Homo sapiens: one gene and its partners. The protein of the gene in region 1 purifies or fractionates together with the protein of each later gene. This does not show direct contact. Each region holds a gene or a part of one and is shown in the gene's direction. Other genes may lie near its edges.

The links. The genes of interacting proteins can lie anywhere in the genome.
Region 2: the proteins of NAA15 (region 1) and DDI2 fractionate together in Homo sapiens (co-fractionation; one large-scale study listed by BioGRID). This does not show direct contact.
Region 3: the proteins of NAA15 (region 1) and NAA20 fractionate together in Homo sapiens (co-fractionation; one large-scale study listed by BioGRID). This does not show direct contact.
Region 4: the proteins of NAA15 (region 1) and GPHN purify together in Homo sapiens (affinity purification with mass spectrometry; one large-scale study listed by BioGRID and IntAct). This does not show direct contact.

Annotation. Positions count from the first base shown.
Region 1 is NC_000004.12:139,385,005-139,388,504, forward strand, and holds part of NAA15 (N-alpha-acetyltransferase 15, NatA auxiliary subunit), read left to right. Parts: intron 1-1,128; coding exon 1,129-1,226; intron 1,227-2,879; coding exon 2,880-3,080; 3' UTR 3,081-3,500. UniProt on the Homo sapiens protein: Auxillary subunit of N-terminal acetyltransferase complexes which display alpha (N-terminal) acetyltransferase (NAT) activity. The NAT activity may be important for vascular, hematopoietic and neuronal growth and development.
Region 2 is NC_000001.11:15,630,958-15,634,457, forward strand, and holds part of DDI2 (protein DDI1 homolog 2), read left to right. Parts: intron 1-2,481; coding exon 2,482-2,608; intron 2,609-3,500. UniProt on the Homo sapiens protein: Aspartic protease that mediates the cleavage of NFE2L1/NRF1 at 'Leu-104', thereby promoting release of NFE2L1/NRF1 from the endoplasmic reticulum membrane.
Region 3 is NC_000020.11:20,020,362-20,023,861, forward strand, and holds part of NAA20 (N-alpha-acetyltransferase 20), read left to right. Parts: intron 1-2,094; coding exon 2,095-2,119; intron 2,120-3,500. UniProt on the Homo sapiens protein: Catalytic subunit of the NatB complex which catalyzes acetylation of the N-terminal methionine residues of peptides beginning with Met-Asp, Met-Glu, Met-Asn and Met-Gln. Proteins with cell cycle functions are overrepresented in the pool of NatB substrates.
Region 4 is NC_000014.9:67,109,647-67,113,146, forward strand, and holds part of GPHN (gephyrin), read left to right. Parts: intron 1-493; coding exon 494-613; intron 614-2,214; coding exon 2,215-2,273; intron 2,274-3,371; coding exon 3,372-3,500. UniProt on the Homo sapiens protein: Microtubule-associated protein involved in membrane protein-cytoskeleton interactions. It is thought to anchor the inhibitory glycine receptor (GLYR) to subsynaptic microtubules.

The DNA of each region.
Region 1 (3,500 bases):
TTCTAAAACAACTTCAGTAATTTTAATGAATCAACAATAATATAAGGTACATGTTTTTAGAATGGAAGAGGCAGTGTGTATATGTTACATTGTGATCGTATGAAAACAGGCAGCTTAAATAAGCTTCCTAAGCTGGGCACAGTGGCACATACCGGTAGTCCCAGCTACTCAGGATGCTGAGGCAGAAGGATCACTTGAGCCCAGGAATTTGAGGCCAGTCTGGGCAACATAATGATACCCTGTTTCAAATCAAAACAAAACCAAACATATATATATATAATATATATATATATATAATATATATTATATATATATGCGCTTCCTATACATTTTTTAATTTCTTACGGCAAAATAATCACTACAAATCAAAGTCAGTGGTCTCTTCTGGTTCAGCATTGGCATTACAAAGAAGCAGGTGTAACTAAACTTAAATGTATATCATAAAATGAAGGTAGAGCTTTCTTTTATTTCTTTTTTCATCATTGGGCTCTTAAAATTCACTCAGATAGGACCATCGTCTTCCATTTCTCATTCTTATGTAGGTATCAGAGTTGACAGTGCTAAACACCTGAAATTATCTTCACAGTTTGTGAGAAATCTAAGTCAAGGGTCTGTGCCAATGAGCCAAAATCTGACCTTTATGGGACCATGTGGGTAGTACTTTTCAAATACTTGGCTTAAGCCCAGCAGCTTTGTATACCTTTGTGGAATCCTGAATTCAGCATTTTGGCTCACACTGTTGAGATAGGATAGTCCCCCAACCTCCACATTATTCTGCTTATTTCAGAAAGAAGACTATCATGGTCCTACCACAAAAATACAAGTATTATTAGAATGCTTGTGTTTCTTCATAGTCTCCTTTACTGTGCATGTGTTGCATATACATTCTATTTTATTGGGTAGATATATGTGGTATACCTCTATTGTTCTCTTTCTTTGGATGGTTAAGCTAATCCCCTTAGCATTATTATTTTTTGAATAACAGTATCTCAAGTAGCTGTTCCCATTCTTCTAATAAAGTGCCACACCCTCTGCATATATATCTTGTTTGCCTTTTATATTTAAATAAGTAGAGGATAAGATGTTGGTTTTACCTTGAAATAAATTTCCTATTTCCCTCTCATTTAGCTGCCAAAATGGTATATTACTTAGATCCTTCTAGTCAGAAGCGAGCTATAGAGTTGGCAACAACACTTGATGAATCTCTCACTAACAGAAACCTCCAGGTAAAGAGTTTTTCATAATCTCTCTGTAAGAATACTTAACTACTTTTTTCACCAAGAGAAATAATTGGGTATTTATACACACTGTTTTTTAAATCATTATGAATCTGGGTCAGAAACAACTTATCTTAAAATTTATTTAGGCTGCTTGGCATTCAGTAACTAGTTTCACATCTGTAGCTTGGAATAACTTTTTAAGAAATATGTTTTAATAAAATCATATACATTCCATCGTCATTTTTGGATTTCATTTCATATCTCTGCATTTCTGAGCAAGCAGTGGTCTCAGTGGAGATTCTAACATGTTTAAAATGTATTTTGGCTAGGCGTTTTGGTTCATGGCCTATATTCCCAGCACTTTGGCAGGCCAAAGTGGGCAGATCACTGCAGCTCATGAGTTCGAGACAAGCCAGGGCAACATAGTGAGACCCCATCTCTTAAAAAAAAAAATCAGTCAGATGTGGTGGCACTGTATTCCCAGCTACTTGGGGGACTGAGATATGAGGAACACTTGAGCCTGAAAGGTTGGAGCTGCAGTGGGCTGTGATTGTGACGCTGTACTCCAGTATGGACAACAGGGCAAGACCCTATCTCAAAATAAAGAAAGATGTATTTACTAGGGGCTAAATAAAAATACTTATTTTGTAACTTGTAATACAATATGAGATTAAGTTAAATAAAAATTAATATGGGTGTATTGTAAAATACTGTAGTTTAAACTAGAAACAAAGGGATAGCTACCTCATGTTATAATTTGCCAGATAAACATGTATATGCTGAAAGACAGTTATTAATAAATATATTCATTTAATAGCAAATGAAGGCAGTATCTTTAAGAAAGAAAAATTAGACTTGTTTGTTTTACCATTTAGATTAGAACCTGGATTTAAAGTTCTAATCTAGGTCCTTTGTAACCTGGATTTAAGTTGCTTTGTAACCTGGCAAAGTTTGTAGGGATTTTTGCATGTGGAAACTAAGTAGCTTTTCTAAGTGAAAATATTAAGAAAGCAAACATGAGAAATGCAAATCAACATGAATCAACAAAAAAGATAAGAAGCAGACTTACTTAGGGGTTTGGTTGAAAGAATTACTCATTTTCATGAACTAATTTTTCTTGCAAATAATCACTTCATGTTTGAGACACTCTTTTCTGCTTAGTTATTGGATGTGCCTTAAGTTGCTCTTTAATTTGAACACAATGTTGAATACAGTGTTTGAGTTTGCTGGCTGGCTCTAAGCTTTCAAAAATATTAGAAGGCATATGTGCAGTAATTGGTATTGGCATTGTAAATCTAGATGTTTATACCCAGGGCCAGGCTAGGCTGAGGTAACATTGCTGCCTAAGGTCATACGCTTGCTGAGAGTGAGTGGCTTTTTAAATGTAGCACTCCATATACCTTGCTTGCCTCACCATAGTCCCATTCCTGTTTCTGCAGTCATCCCTGTTTAGCCTTTTGTATAAATCCTGCAATTCTGGAGAAATGGTTAAATTAGGCCTTGAAGAACATTCTAATAGAATGCATATGCAGGAGTAAATAGCTAAATATGTGTATTTATTTCTTATTTTAGAAATCTCTTGCTGTTGAAATGTCTAATAAATTCCCAGTAAGAACCTTTTTTTGACCAGTTACAACATGACTTTTTTTCTTTCCTTAGACATGTATGGAGGTATTGGAAGCCTTGTATGATGGTAGCCTAGGAGACTGTAAAGAAGCTGCTGAAATTTATAGAGCAAATTGTCATAAGCTTTTCCCTTATGCTTTGGCTTTCATGCCTCCTGGATATGAAGAGGATATGAAGATCACAGTTAATGGAGATAGTTCTGCAGAAGCTGAAGAACTGGCCAATGAAATTTGAACATCACTAAACAAGCAAATGGAATGACTTTGGACCATATCTAGTATATAATATTTTTGTCACGCACCTGCTGCATTGCTCTAACTTACACAGAATGAGAGGAGTAAATGTTCTTGCCTTCAAATAGTGTTTTACGTTTTTTATCCTGCTGAAAAAGTATATATAAAATATCTAACATTACAGGATAGAGGTTCAGTTTCTTAAAAAATTAAAGCTGCTAAAATTGAGTGGTTAAAAAAGATACCTTATCCTATTCCTCCCCACCCACCCATGTTTTTAAACTAATTTATATAAAATCTGGAGGCTGTTACAGCTAACAAAGCAGGTGTGTGGCAGAAATATTACTTTAAATTTGTCTTGTGAGATTTTACTATATCTCAGACAGCATAAATGCTGTTTTAGCACTGGATTCTTTCACTG
Region 2 (3,500 bases), on another chromosome or scaffold:
CTCAGCCTCCCAAGTAGCTGGGACTACAGGCGCATGCTGCCACACCTGGCTAATTTTTTGTATTTTTATTAGAGACGGGGTTTCACCGTGTTAGCCAGGATGGTCTCGATCTCCTGACCTCGTGATCCGCCTGCCTCGGCCTCCCAAAGTGCTGGGATTACAGGTGTGAGCCACCATGCCCAGCCAGTACCGATATTTTAACCTTAGTTAGATCTTCAATTAAAGAGATCATCAACAAGCCAGCTGATGCCAGCTGATGCCAGGAAGGTTCAGTGCCCTGTATGGCAAAATGGAATCACCATAACCTCAGTCCACTCCAAGTTATTTTTTGTATTTTTTGTAGAGATGGAGTTTTGCCATGTTGTCCAGGCTGCTTTCGAATTCTTGGGCTCAAGCAGTCTGCCTGCCTTGGCCTCCCAAAGTGCTGGGATTACAGGCATGAGCAGTTGCACCCAGCTAACTTGTAGCCATCTTTATGAATCGAGTTTTCTCTGTAAATTACTCTCATTTTACTCTTGGGTTTATGAGTTAAATTGGGTTAAGTCTAAAAACATAACAGACACTTAATGACTCATTCCTCAATTGACTGTCTTTAAATTGGCAATCTTTACCTTAAGCGAAGTACTCAGATTTTAAATATACAATTCCTTGAGTTTTGACAAACTCCTGTAACCCCAATCAAGACACAGGACATTTCTCTCACTCCAGAAAGTTCCACTGTGTTGCTTTCTAGTCAATCTCCTCTCCTTATAGGTTACTACTGTTTTGATAATCTTATGGTTTAGTTTCCCGTATTTTTAAACTTCATGTATATGGAATAATAGAGTGTCTGCTCTTTCGTGTTAGGCTTTGTTTTTTTTTTTCTTGAGACGGAGTTTCACTCTGTCTCCCAGGCTGGAGTGCAGTGGCGCGATCTCTGCTCACTGCAACCTTCGCCTCCTGGGTTCAAGCGATTCTCCCGCCTCAGTGTCCCAAGTAGCTGGGACTACAGGCGTGCACCACCACACCCGGCTAATTTTTGTATTATTAGTAGAGATTGGGTTTCACCATGTTGGCCAGGCTGGTCTCAAACTCCTGACCTCGTGATCCACCCGTCTCGGCTTCCCAAAGTACTGAGATTACAGGCGTGAGCCACCACTCCCAGCTCGTGTTAGGCTTTTCACTCAACTTAATGCTTTTTAGATCCATCTGTATTGTGTGCATTAGTAGTTCAGATAACCATTGTCATAATATCTTTTAATCTCTTATATCAGCATATCTAATCACCAAAGATGGTGATGATGGGGCATTTAAGTTTGCACACTTAAATGTACCACCATTTAAGAAATTGCAAAATAGGCCGGGCACGGTGGATCACCTGAGGTCAGGAGTTCAAGACCAGCCTGGCCAACATGGTGAAACCCAGTCTCTACTAATAATACAAAAATTAGCTGGACGTGGTGGCAGGTACCTGTAATCCCAGCTACTTGGGAGGCTGAGGCAGGAGAATCACTTGAACCTGGGAGGTGGAGGTTGTAGTGAGCCAAGATTGCGCCATTGCTCCCCAGCCTGGGCAACAAGAGCGAAACTCCATCTCAAAAAAAAAGAAATTGCAAAATAGGTTCTTGTTGTAACATACATCTTATAGCAAGCAGTGTTTTCTCTACTAATTTTCCTGCCTATTAATTCATCAGAACACACACAAAATATAGGTAGACTAAAAATAGTTTATACTTAATGTATCTGGCTTAAGGCAGGGCATGTTATAAAAGAAATGAAACTAGAAGAGGAAAAGGAGATTATATAATGCTGTATTTTGTTTCTAGGTAGTAGGATAATGAGAACAATGAGGAATGGAGGAGTGGAGACATTGATCTGCCACATGGTCACTCCCCACCATTTTAAATTGGAAAGTTGTTACCTCTGAGTAGAAACAATATGATAGATAACTTCTTATAAAAAATTTTTGCAAATACTTTTTTTTTTTTTTTTTTTAAAAAAAAAAAAACAGGGTCTCACCATGTCACCCAGGCTGGAGTGTGTGGTGCGATCACAGCTCACTGCATCCTCGACCTCCTGGGCTCAGGCCATCCCCCCACCCTTGAACCCCCATCCAACAGTAGCTGGGACTACAGGCATGCACCACCACGCCCAACTAATTTTTATATTTTTTGTAGAGACAAGGTCTTGCTATGTTGCCCAGGCTGGTCTCGAACTCCTAGGCTCAAACGGTCCTCCCACCTCAGCCTCCCAAAGTGTCGAGATTATAGGCATGAGCTACCACACCCAGCCACAAATACTTTCTTTACACTGAATTTAAATGATGAAATAGCCTTGACTCAGAGAACAGAAAGTAAATGTAATTGCTCATTTTAAATAAGCTTTAGGCATCCTCTCTGCATCTCTTACAGATGTAGTTTGATAAATTGTTTGGTGTGGAAAAGTACTGATAAACGTTGAAAATATAGTGATATTTAAGATTTTTCTCCCTTATTTTTGTAGAGAAATTTTCTAGAGTCCTGGTGGAGCAGCAGCAGGACCGAGCCCGGAGAGAGCAAGAAAGGATTCGTCTGTTTTCTGCTGATCCCTTTGACCTTGAAGCTCAGGCAAAGATAGAAGAAGATATAAGGTAAAGACCTGTTCATCTAAAGAACAAAACTTAGAGACTCCAGATTTCCCAGACTGCAGGTTATCTGACATTGGTTGGGCATCTGCTTGGAGGTAGCTTCTCTGTTTTGCAGTTGAGATAGTAACCTCAGTCTTTTAGGTTAGTCTCTCCTCTTTCATTTTCTATGCATTTCGATTTGACATGACAAAGATATAGGTGCTTAGTTTAATGACTTTCTTTCTAAAATTTTAAGGAGGACTCCCTGACTAGCAGACAGAGCATCATAACACAGCTTTAGATAAATGACCCCCGGACTGAGCAGAAGCCACCATCTGGTGAGACCACAAGGCTGGTTGCATATTACATGGGCTGATTTGACTCTCTTTCTTTAGACATATTGTATAAGTCCTGATTAAATCCAGGGCTTAAACATGATTGGATTAGAGAGGGCTCTGCGCCGATGGAACGTTGGTAGTCCTAAGTCTGTTTTCCTGCTGCATTTCTTGTACTGGCCTCAGTGGATAAACTGAATGCTGGACATGTTTCCAGCTCTCAGTTTCTGTAATGCGGTGGTTCTCACCTGGGGCTATAGTAAAATCACATGAGAAACTTTTAAAAATGCAGATGCTTGGACTCTTCTCCCAAATCTGATGAATCAGAATTGTCGGGCATGGAGCTCAAGCAAGGACAGTGACGCTGTTCCGGCCTCAGTCACACTGATAGTCACAAGCAAGATTCTGTTCAGTCATTCTCTGAAAAAAAGGACAGCTGCTTTTCCTGCCTCAAGTCAGTTTTTGTTGCTAATTGTGAAGAACTTAGTATAACTAAGAAGAAGATAACAGCAACGATACTTACTACACTTAGACTGCTTGGCCTTTTAGGGACCGTGTCATCATTCCGGTTACTTAAATGA
Region 3 (3,500 bases), on another chromosome or scaffold:
TGGGGAAGTTAGGAATGAGTTACATGAACACTGGGGGCCAGGGGAGCTTCCAGATAGAGGGAACAGTAAGTGAAGACACCCCTGTTTCAAATAGGAGGCAGGCCGCATGGCTGGTACAGAGTGAGCATGGGAGGGTAAGGGGATAACAGCAGAGAGTTAGAAGGGCAGGGCCTGGAGAGGCCATCATAAGACCTGAACTTCTCTGCCAAGTGCACCAAGAAACCCAGGTGGAGGGGCCAGGAAGGCATCTGGGCATGGGCGTCTCAAGATTAGGTCTGAGCTAAAGATGGAAATTTGGGGGTCAGCACAAGTGTAGAAAAAAAGGCTAAGAGTTTGTAAGATGGCGCCTTAGGGCATCAAGTGTTCAAGTAAAGGAGACCGTGTGGCTCAGTGAGGTGAGAGGAGAACCCCATGGTCTCAGAAGCTGAGTGAAGACAGCATTTCAGGCTGTCCCAGGAGTGGGAAGCTGTTCAAGAGGAGCTGATGGCTCAGTGCACATCATATTTGTACATTTCTTCCAGGAAAGAGAAATTGAAGATGCAGATGCAGGAGGGAAAGAGAATTGCAGGAGGAGGGTCCCGAGTACTGAGGGGGTCTCTCGCCCGCACTCCGTGCCTATTGACAGGAGAGCAAGTAGCATATGGGTGCAGATGCCTGTGTGCGTGGGTTCGGTGGGCGGGGGGGGGGGGGGACTTTGGCAAAGACTTCTTCCTGTTTTCTCTTCTTAGTGATGAAATAGGAAGCCCCTGAGATGGCGGGGCTGGAGGTGAGGGTGCGGGTGGGCAGACAAGAGGAGATAAAGCAGTTCAGTCGTCGAAAGGTGTGGTGGAGTGACTCCCTGCACTGTATTAGAGCAGTGATTCTCAAGGAGTGGGCCAGGGTTTGGGGTCCCCAAGATTGTTTCAGGTGTTGTGTGAGGTTAGAGCTATCTTCATGATGTATTAAGAAGGTTTTTCATCTTTTCCACTGTCATTCCCTCACAAGTAGACAGTGGAGCTTCCCAAGGTGTGATCTTTCAGCAGCAAGCATAACAAATGCTTGAGAATCCCGTTGTCTTTTAAGCAGGACGTTGCAGAATTGTTAAAACAATGCCATTGTTGTCACTGGATTTTGTTTTGTTTTGTTTTCGGAAGTATAGTGATTTTTTTGGTAAAGGTATTTGTGTTAACGTGTAATTGATTTATTATTTTTGAGTGAATATTTAAAATTTTTAAATCTCAGTAGATATTACGCGTATAAACAAAAGTTCTTTGGAGTCTTCAGTAACTTTTTAGCGTAAAGGAGTTCTGAAACCAAACAGTTTAAGAACTGCTGGACTACAGAAATATGATATGACTAGCATTGTTATGGGTCTCAAAGGAGAATTTGACTAGAAATCAGAAGAGAACAGTTGAAAAGTAGCTGGTTTTGAACCTGACAAAATAGTGGCTCCATTAATTGACTAGGGAAGTGAGGGGATGGAGATGGGTTTTCAGAATGCAGATTTGGGAATGGTGTGCTGGGATGTGCTGGTGAGCTGCCCACAGCATCGGAGCCAGGTTGGGAGGCATCCACTAAGAACACGTGATTGAACACATAGGAATGGGGATGGTGGGGACAGGGAGGTGGGAGTGTAGAATAGGAGTGGGGAGCAAAAACCGAGTGGTGGGAGTGACCACATTTAGAGGGTGGAATAAAGGAGCAATTGTCAGGGAAGACCCAGACACAGGCGGGGAGGATCCATGGGGTTGGATGCTGCAGCGGGCGAGTTTGACCTTCTGTCTCTGCGAGATACATCCCTAGTTGGTCTCCAGTTCCATTAGCAATTTATTGCCACTTAGAAAACACAAGATGTAGATTTATTAACTTGAATTTTAAAGAAGCAAGTAGCAGTTAAGTGAAAAAATATGTAAACACCTTAATAGTGGCTGTGACAGCTTATTATGGCTATTAGGTAGATTAAATCATCTGCCTCAGCCCTAAAGTTGGCCTTAAAGTTGTTGATGAAACATGTTTTGTTTTCCTTGTGGCATATTACTGTTAGCTTTAGCAGGCTTATTTCAACTGGTTATTGTAAACGCTGCTTACTAGAGACATTTCTCTTGTTTCTTTCAGTAACTTGGATCCACTTACAGAAACTGTATCCTTTTTTACAAAAAAAAAAAAGTTGAATGAAGATTTACTGAGAATAAAGAAAACAGAAATGAAAGGAAAACAGAGGAGTACTGAAAAGTTTAAAAACTTGTAGGTCAGGAAACATCATAAGCAACACTGAAAGCAATTTTAAAAAGTGAAACTGAGAACAAGAGTTGTCTTAGATCTGCTGACAAACTGTTAATATCATGACTTGGTAGAAATCTGTAACATCATAGCTCCCCTGCCAACCTTGCCCCTCAGGAGTCAGCATGGCTGTATTCACCAGAAAGCACAGTGACTTCAGCAAGGTGGCTGCATAGTCTCCAGTGTGAACAAAGTCTGGAGATAAGCAGTCCCAGGCAGGTGATGCTTCCATGAAGACACCAACAGCCAGGCTCTTTGCAGTTTAAGCACTCTACCCCTCCCAGGGTGGCCGTAACCTTGTTCCAGATGTTGCCACAGCAAACAGCATCACAGCCATGTTTCCGGCAGCAGAAACAGCAGAGGGGGAGGTGAGGGTGTTCTTCCCTTTTAAGAGTACCTTTGGGCCTGTACTCCCAGCACTTTGGGGGGCCAAGGCAGGCAGATCACGAGGTCAGGCGTTCAAGACCAGCCTGGCCAACATGGTGAAACCCCGTCCGTCTCTAGTAAAAATACAAGAACTAGCCAGCCGTGGTGGCTCACTCCGTAATCCCAGCTACTTAGGAGGCTGAGGCAGGAGAATCGCTTGAACCAGGACCCGGGAGGCAGAGGTTGCAGTGAGCCGAGGTTGCAGTGAGCCGAGATCGCGCCACTGCACTCCAGCCTGGGCTACATGTAGAGCGAGACTCCGTCTCAAAAAAAAAAAAAAAAGGAGAGTACCTTTGGGAAATGCCACACAGGCCCGCTCTGTCTCATTGACCAGCACCTGTTTCATGCTTCACCTGTCTACTGAATCCTATCTAGAGTCCAGAAATGTGCCCTGCTTTATAAATTGGGACTTGTTACTAAAGTGAAGGCTTTGAGGTAACAATGAACAGTGTCTATTATTGTCCTAATGGAAAAATGGGGCAAAGATGTGAAGATAGGATACTGTGGTTATGCTGCTGTAACAGATAACCCCACATCTCTAGTGGCTTACAACACAAAGTTCGGATTCTGTGTTATGCTCTGTATCTACTGTAGGTGGGTAGGAGGGTTCTGCTAACCGGTAATTTATCAAAAGAGGGCATATAGGAGCTTAATGAACGTGTTAAGAGTTCAGTCTCATCAGTCAAAAGACATGTAAACTAAAACCAAAATGAGATGCCATATTTTATGTATCAGCCAAGATTTTAAAAAATGATAAACCTCAGTGCTGATGATGGTGAGGTGAGAGGAACATTCTCATAAATTGCTAGTGACAA
Region 4 (3,500 bases), on another chromosome or scaffold:
ATTAAAATATTTCTGGCTTGCCTTTATTTAACCAAAAAGTTTAGTTAATAAAGTACTGCATTTCTCAAACATTAGAACTTCAATAAGTTATGAAGATTTTTTTTTGTAATTGTTATTCACAATGTATGTCCTAGCAATTTTTTTACTTACAGACTCTCAAATCACTTTACATATATTAGGAAAATGTACATTATTTGAGAGGCAAAAGTGGCAAATGTAAATGGCAGTTCTTCAAAAGTAAAGCAGAGCACCAAGACACCGAATAGTCATTACCTTAAAGTACACATAAAATCAGCTTAAATGAACCTAAAGCCCCTTTAGTGTGAGTGCACCTGTTTGTGGATAGCTTTTATTACACTGGCCCAAAATGAATAAGACTGTAAGACTTTCTTTTATGGTTTATTTTTTAATATTAAAAAAATTAACATCCTCTGCAGACTTTTCCTTTGCAGCAGCAAAGTACATCAACTGTCTTTTTCATCTTTATTTCCAGCCAACTCAGACAGTAATGCCAGGACAAGTCATGCGGGTTACAACAGGTGCTCCAATACCCTGCGGTGCTGATGCAGTAGTACAAGTGGAAGATACCGAACTTATCAGGGAATCAGATGATGTACGTCATCACCAAGTCTTACTGTGCTGTTGTTCCTATGGCAGTATTATGTCACAACCATTTTCTGCAGTGTTTGTGAGATTAACCCAGTTTTTTGGGTTGTTTAGTTTTGTTTTGTTTTTGCTTATGGTGGGATCTTATATTGTAGTATATGAGTCTCCAGTAAATAAGAAATTTCCTTAATCTTGAAAATCTGTTGTTACAGGAGGGGTTTCTATGATCATTGCTGTTATAGCAGAATTTGAATCATATTTGACCCAAGCAGTTTCACATGCAAACAACGAAAGAAAGTACCTCAAGAAAGAAATGCAGAGATATTAATGGTTGACATACCTTCCAGAGCAGAGATATTAATGGTTGACATACCTTCCAGCTGAGAAATTTGCCATTGAGACTAGCTTCTGATAAAATGTCAAGGAGTTCATGAAATCAGAATTTACTAGAGAAGAATTTAACAAAGAGCACTTGGGCAAGTTCTTGAATATTACACTAAGCCAAGCATTTGAACCAAATGACCCTTTCACCTCTGGTTTTCTGTAAGTCTGGAAAAAGCTGTGCCACCAAATGACAGCCTGGAAATATTAAGTGTATGTCAGTTCTCCCTCCATTGCCTCAAGTAAAAGATGCTGGAATCTTTTTGGACCTAAGCAAGCCTTTATCTCACTGAAAATAGTGGCAGGTTATTGAAACCAGAGTATAAGCCAGTAATAAAAGTAGAATAGATTCAACTGAGGTTTTAATAATCAGCTCTCTTACTTGTTTTATGAAGAAAGTAAAGATATATTTTAAAGCTGAGGTGAAAAATAAACATATATTCTCCCAAGCCGAGTAGATAGTAAAATTGGCCATGCCAAGAGACAGACACTTTCCCTGATCTGGAGATTTTCTTTTTAATCACCTTTCCATATGTAAGGCTTATAAAATTCAACCCTTGGCAAACAGATCACATTGCCTGCTGTTAAAACTGCCTAAGCAGATTTATTGGCATCAGGGAAGCCAGCAAAGCACTGAATTCCAGAACACATACATCCACAGACTCTGCCAGATGACAAGACACAGTTCCAATGTCACAATATTATTCACAGCCCATAAATGTAAAATTGATTACTGCAATTAATGGACAGAAATCTACTACCAGGCAAACTATAAGTCCTTTACTGAAATTTCTGCAAGTATTTGGTAACCTTGGCATGGTATTGAACCCATGATTCATGGGAAAAGAAGGAAGATATTACCTCCACACACGTTCACTTTATTAGGGTAGCCACCTACATATGTATATAAAAATATATAAACAAATTCTATATAATGTATTAGTTCAAATATTAAATCTTATAAACAAGATTTAATATTTGAATTGGTACATTTTTTAAAAGCATAAAAATTGGAGAAAAAAATTTTTTATTTATTGGCACCAAACCTTCTAATTTTTCAGGAACCTGTGTTAGAAATTCAGTGTTTTCAAAGGGTGTAGCAAATAGTTTTCTTTTTGTCTATATTTGTATATATCCTGGGCCTATCTGATGGTAAAAGTATCGGAGTAACTAAATTCTACTGCTCAGAAATTCTGTTTGAAATTACATGACCGGCTGTTATTATAGGGCACTGAAGAACTTGAAGTGCGAATTCTGGTGCAAGCTCGGCCAGGCCAAGATATCAGGTAACTTCAAAACACATAGAATATATAGCCTACTTTTGTTTCTACATGATCATTTACTCAGGAAACCCTGGCTACTATAAATCTGCAGCCATGTCAGTTAGCCATTAATTTTCAGGGCTTTAACAAAAAGCAAAATGAATGTTATGAATTCTGTATCACATATCTGCCCTGCCTACTTTTTAATGAAGATGGTAAAGGCGAGTTAGTCAAAAGCAAGATGAGAAAGAGGTAAAGTCATGAGCCTACATATTCTACAGTTAATTCTACTTCTAGATAATCCAGAATTACCCAATCCCATCCCTAAATAATCTGGAATTTGGTATCAACTCAGATAATACCAGAATTGGGTATTTACACAATTAACTAATAGCATATGCTCTAGTGACTACCAATAATAATGGAATAATCTGTTCCTTGTTATATACAAAGATGAGGCTATTTGCTATGATAAATAGTGCATATACCTTAAATTATTTTTCTTAAAATGGAATATGTTTACCCTGATTCCATTAATACTAATTTGCTGAACATCCCTTTGTAACGAAGCTACACTTCTCCCATCCCTATGGCAGCACACCAAGGTTAATGTACCTCAGTAGCCACAGATCAGGACCAACCTAAGTGGTCCATATGGAAATTACCTCTATGACTGTAGCCTCATTAGCATTATTCTCCTTGACAAAGCTAGCCAGCTGTGGACCTCTTATCATTAATGCCGCTAGATATTGCCATACAAATTCTTGCCTTATCAAAGAAAGTTTACAATTGGTATTTTTACTATAATGTAACATAAAACAATTTGTAAAGTAATTTTATTCACAGGTACTCATGAAAAAAAATTTCAAATATGAAGTAACATGTTTTTCTTTAGCAGTAATACATTCAAATCCTATTTCTGTTTTCTGTTGTGTGATTTAACTTTTAAAATTAAAAAAGCATAGGATTTTTAGAATCCCTTCAATTCATTGTTTTCCTACTACTTTATTTCTAGACTTTTTTGTCTTCTTGAATGTCCTTTTTTGACACTAAAGTTTCCCTCTGAGTTGAGAAAATGTTGTTCTCTAATCACACTGCTTATGGTTCTGCTTTGACTTTCAGACCCATCGGCCATGACATTAAAAGAGGGGAATGTGTTTTGGCCAAAGGAACCCACATGGGCCCCTCAGAGATTGGTCTTCTGGCAACTGTAGGTGTCACAGAGGTTGAAGTTAATAAGTTTCCAGTGGT